Homo sapiens: one gene and its partners. The protein of the gene in region 1 purifies or fractionates together with the protein of each later gene. This does not show direct contact. Each region holds a gene or a part of one and is shown in the gene's direction. Other genes may lie near its edges.

Region 1 (4,098 bases):
ATTTGCGACCCGTGTGTCTGTGCGCGTGTCTGTGTCTGTGTTGTGGGTGTGTGACTCTTTGTATGTGTTATGTGTGCCAGTGTGTGTTTATGTATGTGATGTGTGACTGTGGTGGGGTTCTGTGTCTTTGTAACCTTGTGTGAAAGGTGTGTGTATTTGTGATGTGTGTGTCCATGTCTGTTTAGGTATGTGATGTGTGCAACTCTGTGTGTCTGTGTATTTGATCTGTGTGCCTATGTCTGTGCTTATGTATGTGTGACTGTGTATATGTGCATGTTATATGTGTCTGTATGTATCAGTGTGTGGTGTATTTATGTGTATTTTTGCATGTGATTTATGTAGCCCTGTATGTATGAGTTGTGTGTGCCCGCATGCATGTGTATGTAGTGTGTCTGTGTGTATCCATGTGAGTGAAGCTTGTGTCCGTGTGAGTGATGCATGTTACGTGTCCGTATACATGCATGTATTATGTTTCTGTGTACTCATGTATGTGATGTGCCTGTCTCTGTGTAGCTGCTGTGTCCGTGTCTATGTTAGTTCATGTGATGTGTGTGTCTGCGTGTGTCTGTGCAATTGCTGTCTGTGCATGTCTGTGTGACGTGCATGTATGTGATACTTGTGTCTGTGGGTATTCTTTGTTGCCCATTTGTCTAGGGACTGTCTGCGTGGCTGTGACTATGAGTGTCAGCATGTCACAGTGGTGTCCGTGGGGATCTTTGTCTGTGGCGTGTGCGTCTGTGGATCTGGGGCTTTACTTTGTCCGGGGCATGTGTGGGTCTTTGTGATGCTTTGACGTTCCTGCGTGGCCGGGTGCATCTGTGCTGGAAGCTGGCCTGCCTGTGCGTTTCCAGTGCGGTCCCTGCGTCTTTGTGTGTGACGTGTACGTGTCCCCGTCTGCTGATGGCTGTCCACCTTTGTATGTGATGCGCTTGTCTATGAGGGTCCCTGCGACGTGTGTCAGCTGTGTGTGGGCTGCGCGTGCCTGACATCTGCATCTTAGCGTGTAGCACATGTGTCCATGCTGGTGGCATGTCACAGCGGTGTCCGGGCCAGGCACCCGTGGGCCCTGCCCCCCCACCCCCGCTGCAAGTGTGTGCCGGTCCCTGTCTGTCCCTCCCCCTCCCATTTCCTCCCCTCCCTCCTGGCAGCCAATGCTACGGGGGAGCCAGTTGCCATGACGACGCTCCATCCTCCCTCCTCCCACCCTTCCTGTGACAGGCTCTCTGCTCCCCCAATCCTGGCTGCCCTCGGGGGCGGGGCCCTCTTTCTCGCCCCCCCCATCCTACCCTCTCCCCCCCACCCCAGCAACCCCGGCTCCCCAGCATCTCTCCTCTGTCCGCCTCTCCATCCCTTCATCCGTCTGTCCCTTCAAAGAGGGGGAGGGGGGTACCTGAGCCAGCAAGCAGCCCCTCCCTCCCCCTGTCCTGCGTCTCCTGCCCCTCTCCTGGGCCGGGAGGAGGCCAGGGTCGCGCGGGTCCCCATGGCTGGGGGCTGAGGGCCCGCCCCCCCCTCCTCCCCAGCCGCCACCACCTCCACCTCCCTGCCATCCTCGACAAGATGCCTGCCCCCGGCGCCCTCATCCTCCTTGCGGCCGTCTCCGCCTCCGGCTGCCTGGCGTCCCCGGCCCACCCCGGTGAGTCTGTCGGGCCATCAGTCTGTCCGGTGGCCCCCACCCCCGCGGCGGCCTCGCTGTCTGCCCAGGGGTCTGTCTGCGGGTCCTGCCCCGTCACCTGGTGCGCGTCTTCCCGCAGCCCAGCAGGGCCCGGAGCGGCGGGGACGGTGCCTCTGTCAGCAGGGCCTGTGGGAGGGAGGCTGGGGGCTGGGTGGGGAGGGGGCTCCGTTTGGGCAACATGTGTGTATGCGTGCACGCATGTGTTTGTGCTGGTGTGTGCAGGAAGAAGGGGAAGGACAGGGCCTCTGGGAGAATTGGGGGCAGAGGACAGGAATACTATTTCTAAGGGGGACACAACACGGGAGGCTGTCTCTGGCTTCTGGAGAGACCCAGGGCTTGCGGAGTTCCCTTCTCTGGGTCTTGGGCTGGGGATAGAGAACATCGGTGTGCGCCAAGCGTCCCTAAAAGAGACAGATCTCAACCCCACAAACTGGGGGGTTCCAGCATGGGGCAAGAATCTTCTCCCAGCCTGCAGCTGAGAGCTAGTCCTCCTCCCCAACGAGGGGTAATGAGGCTGTCCACGGGAGCGTATTTTAAATTCTGCAAGCTCCAGACTTCACTATCACTCCTCTTTCCTTCAACCCTCATTGGAATTCATCCAAGCCTGGGGTGAGGGGATGGGGTGGGATGAGGTGGCGGGGGTCCCAGTTTGGGACGAGAAGAGAGACCCCACCCCCAATCCAACCACTTGGGAAGGCCCCAAACTACAACTCCCACAATGCCTTGGGCCACTCTGCACCTCTGCCAAGGGACCCTGGTCGCAGAGCATCACGGGAGTTGTAGTCCAAGACGTGCCGGGACGGGAGGGGGCATGATTCCGGTATCCAGGGACTTGAAGCTGGGACCCCAGCCCAGCCCTGTGCCCACAGATGGATTCGCCCTGGGCCGGGCTCCTCTGGCTCCTCCCTACGCTGTGGTCCTCATTTCCTGCTCCGGCCTGCTGGCCTTCATCTTCCTCCTCCTCACCTGTCTGTGCTGCAAACGGGGCGATGTCGGCTTCAAGGTGAGGTGCATGAGGGGATTCAACTTGGGGAGGAAGACTCCAGCAAGGCCTTTACCCCCTACACAGGTGGTTGGTGGGGAGAAGGGGGCAGTAAATCCGAGAGCACCTTCCAGCTTGAAGCTATGGCAAGATCTGGAGCCTTGGGATGGGGAAATGGGGGATGGAAATTGGGCTGGGACTGGGAGACAGTTACAAAAATGAAGGGGAGACAAACTTAAGAGAAAGACGATGGCGTGTCTCTCAGCCCTGCGTTCTCCCACCCCTCTTCTCCTCTCCTGGCCCCAGGAATTTGAGAACCCTGAAGGGGAGGACTGCTCCGGGGAGTACACTCCCCCTGCGGAGGAGACCTCCTCCTCACAGTCGCTGCCTGATGTCTACATTCTCCCGCTGGCTGAGGTCTCCCTGCCAATGCCTGCCCCGCAGCCTTCACACTCAGGTACTGCCCCACGCCATGACCAGCATCCCATGGTGTCCCGGGAAAGGCCAGAAGATGTTGAGTGTGTTCCTTCAGGGGCTGGGGCGGTTGAGACCAGCGGCAGCCAATGGGAAAGGCATAGGTGGGAGCGCTGGAATCTTGGAAGCAGCCTATGGGGAGGCAGACAAAGATCATCTTGGTGGAAGCCATTGCTTAATCCAAAACCAGATTTGGGGATTTTTAAGGGGCAAGCGGTGGTGAGATTACCATAGAGCACAGTCTCAGAGGCAGCCAATGGGAGGCTGAAATCACATCATAGGAGCTTGGGATGCCAAAAGGAAGGACTGATTGGATGCTGGAGCCTTGTGAGCAGCCAATGAGGAAGCTGAGATTCTGACATGGAATGTGGGTGGCAGCCAATGAAAAGAGAGTGATGTCTGCTCTGTCTCAGTCCCCACTGACCTGGGGTGTGTTGGTAGCACTCAGGAAGGGGGAGAGACTCAGGGGCTTTCCCCTCTTGCCCTCCCCAGACATGACCACCCCCCTGGGCCTTAGCCGGCAGCACCTGAGCTACCTGCAGGAGATTGGGAGTGGCTGGTTTGGGAAGGTGAGTGGGCTGGGGAGGGGAGGCAGGGCTCCATGGATCCCGAGCTGTCCTCCTGTTCTGTGTCCACACCCCTGCTCTCACCACTTCTCATCTGTCCCTCGCCTCCTCCCCATGCCCCCTCAGCCTCCCATCCCCCCTCCGTCCACCTCTCACCGGCTCCCACCCGCCCCATCCCCGACATCTGTCAGTCAGCGCCTCCCTCCTCACTCCATTGACCACTCCGCCGCGCCACCCGGCTCTCCACGCGTCCGTCCGTCTGTCCATCCTTCCATCCGTCCCTGCGTCCATCGGATTCTGGGCCCGTGAGTGTCTCACCCCATGTCTGGTGGGGGTCAAGGGTGGTGGGATGTGGAGGGAGAAGCTGGGAAGGAGCCGGGGGTTGGGAGCTGTGTGGTGGAGTG
Region 2 (3,500 bases), on another chromosome or scaffold:
GCCTCCCAAAGTTCTGGGATTACAGGCATAAACCACTGAGCTTGGTCTAATACACGTGTTTTTTATTTAAGCCAAAGTATCTCGATAACAGTTGTTTAAGAGGCCAAAAAGAAAAACCCTGACAAATATGTTTTGATCTTTAGTTCAGTGTGCATCATATACCTTAGCCCCTTTAACCCTTCCTTCTACTGGAAGAGAATTTTGGAAGGAAAAAACTTTTAATTAGACTGAGACTTTTTGAGACGGAGTCTTGCTGTGTTGCCCAGGTTGGAATGCAGTGGCATGCGATCATGGCTCACTGCAGCCTCGACCTGCTGGGGTCAGGTGATCCTCCTACCTCAGCCTCCCGAGTAGCTGCGAACACAGGCACGCATTGCCACACCTGGCTAATTTTTAAATTATTTGTAGAGACAGGGTCTCCGTATGTTATCCAGTGTAGTCTGAACTCCTGGACTCAAGTGACCCTCCTGCCCTGGCCTGAGGTTAGGATTACAGGTTTGAGCCACTGTGCCTGGCCAGACGGAGACTTCTAAGCAGAAACATTTTTGGCCATCCCATCTGGTCTTCTTATTTTGCAGATGAGAAAACTGAGGCTCAAACAAGTAAAAGGCTATACATAGGTGGTTACTAGTACAGGCAAGACTAGAATCCAGGTCTTTTACCCTTAGTCTGATGCGCTCTCCATTATGAAGAACTCTGAATTTGGAATATTTCTCAGAACATGAATCTTAATTACTCCCTTTCACACTTCCCTTCTTAGCACAATCCTTGTTTCAGACTCTTAGATCCTTCTTATGGATGAAAGGGGAACGTAGCCCTCACCAGCTAGGTTCTCCTTTTCCAAGAGACAGAGTTACCCATGCAATTCAAGAGTATTTCACAGGACAGAGGTTAAGAAGCTACTCTCGGGAATAGAAATTTGATACTGTTTAGTACTCATGATTCAAAATTTTATTAGATTCCAGCATTAATAATAACAATTAGTTTAGATAGAAAAGTATGTGCAGGCCGGGTGGGGTGGCTCACACCTGTAATCCCAGCACTTTGGGAGGCCGAGGTGGGCGGATTACCTGAGGTCGGGAGGTTGAGACCAGCTGGACCAACATGGAGAAACCATGTCTCTACTAAAAATACAAAATTATCCGGGCGTGGTGGCACATGCCTGTAATTCCAGCTACTCGGAAGGCTGAGGCAGGAGAATCTCTTGAACCCGGGAGGCAGAGGTTGTGGTGAGCCGAGAGCACGCCATTGCATTCCAGCCTGGGTAAGAAGAGTGAGACTCCATCTCAGAAAAAAAAAGAAAAAAAGCGTGTGCAATAGTTTTAAAAAAATACAATAGTTTTAGTTTTACAGAAAAGTTGTGAAGATAGTACAGAAAGTTTCCATGCACCTCACATTCAGTTTTCCCTGTCAATTTCCTTTTTTTTTCTTTCGGGATGGAGTCTTGCTCTGTCGCCCAGGCTAGAGAGCAGTGGCGTGATCTGGGCTCACTGCAACCTCTGCCTCCTGGGTTCAAGTGATTCTCCTGCCTCAGCCTCCCGAGTAGCTGGGATTACAGGTGTGTGCTGTCACACCCGGATAATTTTTTGTATTTTTAGTAGAGACAGGGTTTCACCATGTTGGCCAGGCTGGTTTCAAACTCCTGGCCTCATGATCCGCCCGCCTTGGCCTCCCAAAGTGCTGGGATCACTGGTGTGAGCCACTGCATCTGGCTTCGCTGTTAATTTCTTATATTGGTATGGTACACTTGTCACAATTAAGGAACCAATATTGACACATTTATTATTAACTAAAGTTCAGATTTCCTTAGTTTTTCTTTAATGTACTTTTGCTGTCCTAGGACTTCATCCAGGATACCACATTACATTGTAACGTGAAACTTTTTTTTTTTTTTTGAGATGAAGTCTCGCTCTGTGGCCCAGGCTGGAGTGCAGTGGCGTGATCTTGGCTCACTGCAAGCACTGCCTCCTGGGTTCATGCCATTCTGTGGCCTCAGCCTCCGAAGTAGCTGGGACTATAGGCGCCTGCCACCATGCCCGGTTAATTTTTTTTGTATTTTTAGTAGAAGTGGGGTTTCACCGTGTTAGCCGGGATGGTCTCGATCTCCTGACCTCGTGATCCATCCGCCTCGGCCTCCCAAAGTGCTGGGATTACAGGCGTGAGCCACCGCGCCCGGCCCACATGAAACGTTTTACATTTATCACTTAGGTAATATTAATGGTACAGTGAAGCTCTAGTCTCTGACTGTAGATGCCTGGAAAATGTCTTTGAGTTATGAGAAACTCAGAAAAAATTGATGAAAGAATATGTTTTCTGCTATGTAGGCAGAAAACAAAACCAAAATATAACCTACTAATTGCCTTCTTCAGAAGTGGGTAGCATTGTATATACTGGAAGAACTAGTTTAGCAGTGTTCTGAGTTCCCTGCTGCCCCTGACAGACTACTGTGCCACCATGGGCATGTCAGTTAATCACTAAACATTGCTTTTCCCATCCCATCTGTGAAAAGATTGGACAACATCATCTTGTTTTCCTCTTTAGATGAAGATACTTGGATATGGACAGAACTCGGGTGTGGTGATAGAAGAGAATTACATAGTTTAAATCATAACCTAGAACTTGGGAACTAAACGATAGAAGAGCTGAACTATGGTAGTCTAGTGTATTTCCCTCTTGAGGCTTCCATAACTGGCCTGGTTGATTTTTCTAGGTCATTTGGGAGCCTGAATTCTCTTGATAAACATGCTTTTGATAATATGGTACAACCTCACTGTACAGGCAGTCCTTTGAACGGCAGTTGGCAGAGGTAAAAATGGCCATGCAAAAAACTACCCAAAGCAGTCTTAATAATTGGGAAAATTATGGTTATTCTGAGACCTTCAAAAATGTCAACACATTAAGAACTCTCCCTGTTTAGAAATATGCAGGAAAGGGCCGGGCATGGTGGCTCACGCCTGTAATCCCAGCACTTTGGGAGGCTGAGGGGGGCGGATCACGAGGTCAGGAGATGGGAGACCATCCTGGCTAACACAGTGAAACCCTATCTCTACTAAAAATACAAAAAATTAGCCGAGTGTGGTGATGGGCGCCTGTAGTCCCAGCTACTCGGGAGGCTGAGGCAGGAGAATGGTGTGAACCTGGGAGTCGAAGCTTGCAGTGAGCTGAGATTGCTCCACTGCACTCCAGTCTGGGCAACAGAGAGAGACTCTGCCTCAAAAAAAAAAAAAAAAAAAATGTGCAGGAAAATGAAACCAGTAAAATTAATATTTAGTATGTCATAATTTAAAGTATCAGATATTAAGAATTAAAATGTTTTATTTCATTAAAAAAAGCTTGTTGGCTGGGCGTGGTGGCTCACGCCCGTAATCCTAGCACTTTGGGAGGCCGAGGTGGGTGGTTCACGAAGTCAAGAGATCAAGACCATCCTGGCTAACATGGTGAAACCCCGTCTCTACCAAAAATACAAAAAACTAGCCGGGCGTGGTGACAGGCACCTGTAG
Region 3 (3,359 bases), about 14 Mb from region 1:
CCAAAGTGCTGGAATTACAGGCTTGAGCCACTGCGCTCAGCCTCTTTCTTTCTTTTTAAATGTTCTTTCATTTTGCCAAGAACTGGGTTTCTGTTCCTTTTCCAGGGCGACATGGAGTCCAATGGGAAATACATCACCAAATCTGGAACCCGTGTGGACCACCAGACAGGCCCCATTGTGTGGGGGGAGCCAGGGACCAATGGCCAGCATGCTTTTTACCAGCTCATCCACCAAGGTAGGCCCCTGTGGCCTGGGAAGGGTGATGTTGGGGGAGGGAAAGGATCTTCCAGAAGAGATATCTCACTTAGGTCAGTGCCCTCCTCTAGGCCATATGGCTAGCTCCCATGGGCTGGGGTCATGTGGGTGACCACAGTGCCCTTCACAGGCACCAAGATGATACCCTGTGACTTCCTCATCCCGGTCCAGACCCAGCACCCCATACGGAAGGGTCTGCATCACAAGGTAAGAGCCCCCATCTGGCCCCATCTGGGGGGTCTGGCTCACATTGCACCCAGACCTCTGAAAACCTGGTGCATTGGTTGGCAATCACGTTAGTTTTCTATTCCTGCCGTAACAAATGATAACAAACATGGAGGCTTAAAACAACACTCTTCTTTTGTGGGGTGGGGAGGGGGGACAGAGTCTTGCTCTGTCGCCCAGGCTGGAGTGCAGTGGCACGATCTTGGCTCACTGCAACCTTCCCCTCCCGGCCTCAAGTGATTCTTATGCCTCAGCCTCCCAAGTAGCTGGGACTACTGGCACTCACCACCATGGCCAGCTAATTTTTGTAGTTTTGGTAAAGGGGGGGTTTCACTATGTTGGCCAGGCTGGTCTTGAACTCATGACCTCAAGTAATCTACCTGCCTCGGCCTCCCTAAGTGCTGGGATTATAGGCATGAGCCACCTTCCTGGGCTATCTGAAGAGTTTCTGAAGCTCAAATATCCAGCAGGCCCTGATGTGTCTCTGCTTAGAGTCTTGCAGGCTGAAATCAAGGTGTCATCAGGACTGTGTTTCTTTCTGGAGACCTTAGGGGAAAAGCCTTTGACCTGCTTGTCAGGTGGTTGGCAGAATTCATTTCTCTATGGTTGTGGAACTGAAGTCCAGCTTCCTTGCTGTGGGCTGAAGGTCGTTCTCAGATTCTCAGAGGTCACCTGCATCCTCTAGCTTGTGGGCCTCTTCACTGCAGAACCAGCAATGGCAGGTTAAATCCTTCTCTGAAGCTTTGATTCTGTCTTGCCACTTCTGTTGCATCTCTCTGACTTGTTTACCTTCCTCTTCTACATTTTGCTTTTGTTCCCTAAGTGACAGTGTCATGCTGTGTTGTCTAGGCTGGACTTACAGTGGCATGATCACAGTTCACTGTATTCTCAACGTCCCAGGCTCAAGCAGTCTTCCTGCCTCGGCCCCTCAAATAGCTGAGACTTACAGGCACTAACAGGCACTTACAGGCACTTACAGGCACTAACAGCCTGGCTAACTGTTAAACTTTTTGTAGAGGCCAGATTTCACTATGTTGCCTAGGCTGGTCTCCAACTCCTGGGCTCAAGTGATTCTCCTGCCTCGGCCTCCCAAAGTTTTGGGATTACAGGCATGAGCTACCGTGCCTGGCCCTCTTTTACTTTTAAGGGCCAGTGTGATTAGATTGGGGCTACTAGATAATCCAGGAAAATCTCCCCTTTTGTTTATTTTATTTATTTATTTTATTTTAGAGATAGCATGTCACTCTGTTGCTGAGGCTGGAGTGCACTGGCCCAATCATAGCTCACTACAGCCTTGAACTCCTGGGCTCAAGCAATCCTTTTATCTCAGCCTCCTGAGTAGCTGGGACCACAGATGTACAACATGCCTGGCTAAGTTTTTTTTTTTTTTTAAAGAGACAGAGTCTTGCTCTGTTGCCCAGGCTGGGGTGCAGTGGCACAATCAGGCTCTCTGCAGCCTCACCCTCCTGGGCTCAAGCAATCCTCCTACCTCAGCCTCCTGAGTAGCTGGGAACAGGCACACGCCACCACACCCAGCTGATTTTTTTATTTTTATTTTTTGTAGAGATGGAGTCTCAGTATGTTGCCCAAGCTGCCCTCGAACTCCTTCAGAGAATTTACTGTGCTTTGTCTCAGGTGTGCAGAGCAGCACAGGGTTACGGTAGCACAATCTTGGGAGTCAGTGAGCTGGATTGAATTCTGATTGTTCCTGTCTATAGTTCTGTGATCCAGCACTGTGGACTTGTGGAACCCAAGGCTCTACTAGAACAGGGCGATGATGCCTTTCCTCCTTAGGATCTTAGTATTATTTTTTTTTCGAGACACCGTTTCACTTTGTTGCCCCGGCTGGAGTGCAGTAGTGTGACCTTGACTCACTGCAACCTCAGCCTCCTGGGTTCAAGTGATTCTCGTGCTTAAGCCTCCGGAGTAGCTGGAATTACAGTTGCACACCACCACGCCCAGCTACCTTCTTAGGATCTTAAAAGATAGATGTTGGTAAAATTGTGAGCAGGACCCCTAGCAAGTGGTGTGTAGTTCTTTTTTTTTTTTTGAGATGGAGTCTAGGTCTGTCGCCCAGGCTGGAGTGCAGTGGCGTGATCTTGGCTCACTGCACCCTCTGCCTCCCAGGTTCAGGTGATTCTCCTGCCTCAGCCTCCTGCCTGATGACAGGCATGCGCCACCATGCCCAGCTAAATTTTTTTTTGGTATTTTTAGTAGAGACGGGTTTCACCATGTTGGTCAGGCTGGTCTCGAGCTCCTGACCTCGTGGTCCATCCGCCTCGGCCTCCCAAAGTGTCGGGATTACAGGCGTGAGCCACCGCGCCTGGCCACTGGTGTGTAGTTCTTAAAGAGCAGTTATCACTGTTCCCTGCCTTGTGGTGTCATCGGATGTGTCCCCCTCGCTCCAACTGAGCTGTACAGCGAGTGACCCAGGCTGGGACTGACCCCTGCTGAGAAGTACCAGGCGGTCTTGTCCCTCTGCCTGAAGCCCAGACAGTGCTCTCAAGCATAACTGATGTCTCGCTCATCAGATCCTCCTGGCCAACTTCTTGGCCCAGACAGAGGCCCTGATGAGGGGAAAATCGACGGAGGAGGCCCGAAAGGAGCTCCAGGCTGCGGGCAAGAGTCCAGAGGACCTTGAGAGGCTGCTGCCACATAAGGTCAGCACTTCTGCATTTGGCTTTGGGGTGCATGCTGGAGTTGGAGGTGTGAAGCTATGGCACCAGGCAGGGGCTTGGGGCGTGCCTGGCTTGTCCTACAGAATGGGAGGGCCTGTCCTCACAGACCTGCACGTCTCAGCCTCTGGGGCAGGGTGTGCTTCCCTTCAAGGGGTTTAGGGATCAGGACTCTCTTGGAGACATTCCTTGGTGTTTTCTGCA
Region 4 (2,767 bases), on another chromosome or scaffold:
TATACATGGATGTATCAACAGTGAGGTAGTCATAACTTTCTCCTGACCCATACTGTTGCTTCTGAAAGATTGGAGGTTATGGCAGACATTTTGGGAACATGTAACCTTGCACCATTGCCGTGCTTTGTTGCTTGGACCCATGAATCTTCTGTGGCACAGTTCAGTGGCAAGCTCCAAAGGTGCTCCAAACTCAGTGAGCTGAGTTTCAGAGTAGGACACATTAGAAATGAAAACTATTAATACAAGATGATGAATCAAGTGAGTTAAAATTCAGGGAGTAAAAAACAAGTGTGTTTAAGAACCTGGAAATGAGATGGAGGAACAATTTATTAATTGAGTTTGAAATTTTTGCAGGCTTTATTTCAGGCTGGAGAACTTAAATGGGGGACAGATGAAGAAAAGTTTATCACCATCTTTGGAACACGAAGTGTGTCTCATTTGAGAAAGGGTGAGTGAAAAAAATCTGTATGGGGCAGATACATTGGTAAATTTGGAAAGTGCATGAGCCAGTGTGACAGAATACCTGCTACATAGCAGGGACTTAGAGAATGAATCAGTTTTTGTATTTCTTCCTTTTGGTGACCTGGAGAAATCTCAACATTGTTTTTGCTGCTGTTGTAGCTTTTACAAACTAGAGATCCTGAGTCCACCCTTCACTATTGGAGGATGGCAAGGGAGGTCAGTTCTCTAGATTGTTCCTCTCATAGTCACACATCACTGAATAGTGGCTCACTACACGTATTTCCTCCTAGAGGTTGGTACCCAGGACCTTATCTCTGGATAGTCATCAGCACTTGTGGTATCAGTTGGGAATGAATTTAGTGCAAGTGACAGAGAACCCTAATAGTGGCTTTAAAAATTGGGCTTTTTTTCCAGAGGTGGGATTCCATGGTTGATTTGGCAGGACCTGAGATCTTTCTGGTTTTTCTTTTTGCTCCATTATCCCTAGTGTTTTGGTTTTCTTTCTTCATTATCATAAGATGTCTGCTCTAGCTCCAAACTTAACCATTTCACAGCAGGAAGGAAAGAAAAGGGTAAACTAGTCCTATCTGTGTATCACTTTTTGTAAGTGAGGAGATTTCTCAGCATCCCCTCCAGTAGATTTACCTTTAGGTCTCATTGGCTATAACTCGTAAGGGGGCTGGCAATCAGTGAACAAAGTATATTTACAATCCATTGCTTAGGGCTTGGCACATTGAGGCTTTGAGCACAAGGTTCTGTCAGCAAGGAAGAAGGGGAGATTTGTGTTCAGTAAGACACTACCTAATCAAAGTAAATACCATCTTTCTGGAAAGAGTGATCCCTACATGATTAGGGAATCATTTTTATTTTTTCTAGTGTTTGACAAGTACATGACTATATCAGGATTTCAAATTGAGGAAACCATTGACCGCGAGACTTCTGGCAATTTAGAGCAACTACTCCTTGCTGTTGGTAGGTGATTTACAATGTATTGATATTTTTGGTGGTAAGAGCTAAAGCATTTTATTCAATTGAGGCTGCATCTGAAAATAACCACCTAGGTGTGAAGGAAGAGCTTGATATGATATTTAGGGGAAGCAAACTCCCAAATTTCCAATTCAGAAATTTATTTTGATGTTGGAAATACAGGATTGTCTGGTTAGTTCATCTAAATCCTATGGAAATACTAAGATAATTGTTTAAAAATCATTTTGAAGCTGCATTAAAAATATTATTTATTGATAAACCTGAAATGTCGTGGACATTATCTCAGAGGCTTGTAAACATTATTTCTGATACCTGTGGAATTTTAGAATTTTTTTGAATACTGTTCTCTCAGCTTTGAGGCAGACTAAGAAATTGTCATCTGGTTTAGAAAAGAAGAATATCTTTGATGTAATAGAAGATGTGATGATGGTTGTTTTCAAATTAAATAATTTAGTTTTATTTTAATTAAATATTCAGAATAATCTGGAAAAATTGGAGAACTGAATCTGTGCAGTTGATTGCAGTATTATGTACTCCAAAGCTAGGGAGAATCTAGTTTGTGAGTCTCCTGTGGTCCTTTTGTTCATATGGGTCTGCAGTGAGCCTCTGTCTGCTGTTTGTTCCAAGTATTTGGCCTTGAGCTCACACTTTTGTGCTCTCTGTCTTCAGGAGACTAAGCTAAAGATCTGCATGAACCAACTCTAAAAGTAGCCTTTCACTTGAGTACACAGTTAATGTACTTTTACCAGAAAACTTTTAGACAGGTCCTTCATAATTAGAATACGCATACAAATTAAGACATTTTCAGTTACTGGTGGCTGTTTTTCTTAAGACTTAGAAAAGGGAGAATTAAGAAATCTCCACATGCAAGGATTATTTTTGTATATTAAGGAATTTTCATGATAGATTTTCTGAAGCTAAGCAGACTGAGGTCTGAGCAGCCCCAACCTACATTCAACATGTACATGTTCAGAGAAGAGATCCTTTCTGATATTGATTTATCTGTTTTTGTACTGAAATGGATAAATCTCATGCTGCTCTGTGTGAATCATTGATATTAAAGAATATGTAGAGAGTATAGGAAGATCACCCAAGAGTTTAAAAAAATTAGGTAGTAATCTTGTATTATTTGCTTTAATGTCTTGGAATGAAAACTTCCAAGGGATTTGTGTAATTTATTGGTGATGAAGAATGTTGTGGTATTATGATAACAATCCAGGCTGCCCAAACTGCAGTATCCAAAAAGTCTTCACAGAACCAAGGCGCATAGAAAAACCTGTGCCCTTATTCTCCATGCCTTTCTATGCAGACCTCAGAA

What was found. The genes of interacting proteins can lie anywhere in the genome.
Region 2: the proteins of LMTK3 (region 1) and UBE2V2 purify together in Homo sapiens (affinity purification with mass spectrometry; one large-scale study listed by BioGRID and IntAct). This does not show direct contact.
Region 3: the proteins of LMTK3 (region 1) and GPI purify together in Homo sapiens (affinity purification with mass spectrometry; one large-scale study listed by BioGRID and IntAct). This does not show direct contact.
Region 4: the proteins of LMTK3 (region 1) and ANXA5 purify together in Homo sapiens (affinity purification with mass spectrometry; one large-scale study listed by BioGRID and IntAct). This does not show direct contact.

Annotation. Positions count from the first base shown.
Region 1 is NC_000019.10:48,509,036-48,513,133, reverse strand, and holds the start of LMTK3 (serine/threonine-protein kinase LMTK3 precursor), read left to right. Parts: upstream 1-1,298; 5' UTR 1,299-1,520; coding exon of another isoform or gene 1,521-1,557; coding exon 1,558-1,633; intron 1,634-2,541; coding exon 2,542-2,675; intron 2,676-2,960; coding exon 2,961-3,111; intron 3,112-3,620; coding exon 3,621-3,697; intron 3,698-4,098.
Region 2 is NC_000008.11:48,011,431-48,014,930, forward strand, and holds part of UBE2V2 (ubiquitin-conjugating enzyme E2 variant 2), read left to right. Parts: intron 1-3,500. UniProt on the Homo sapiens protein: Has no ubiquitin ligase activity on its own. The UBE2V2/UBE2N heterodimer catalyzes the synthesis of non-canonical poly-ubiquitin chains that are linked through 'Lys-63'. This type of poly-ubiquitination does not lead to protein degradation by the proteasome.
Region 3 is NC_000019.10:34,396,196-34,399,554, forward strand, and holds part of GPI (glucose-6-phosphate isomerase), read left to right. Parts: intron 1-105; coding exon 106-235; intron 236-385; coding exon 386-462; intron 463-3,011; coding exon 3,012-3,140; intron 3,141-3,359. UniProt on the Homo sapiens protein: In the cytoplasm, catalyzes the conversion of glucose-6-phosphate to fructose-6-phosphate, the second step in glycolysis, and the reverse reaction during gluconeogenesis.
Region 4 is NC_000004.12:121,670,214-121,672,980, reverse strand, and holds part of ANXA5 (annexin A5), read left to right. Parts: intron 1-354; coding exon 355-448; intron 449-1,338; coding exon 1,339-1,434; intron 1,435-2,767. UniProt on the Homo sapiens protein: This protein is an anticoagulant protein that acts as an indirect inhibitor of the thromboplastin-specific complex, which is involved in the blood coagulation cascade.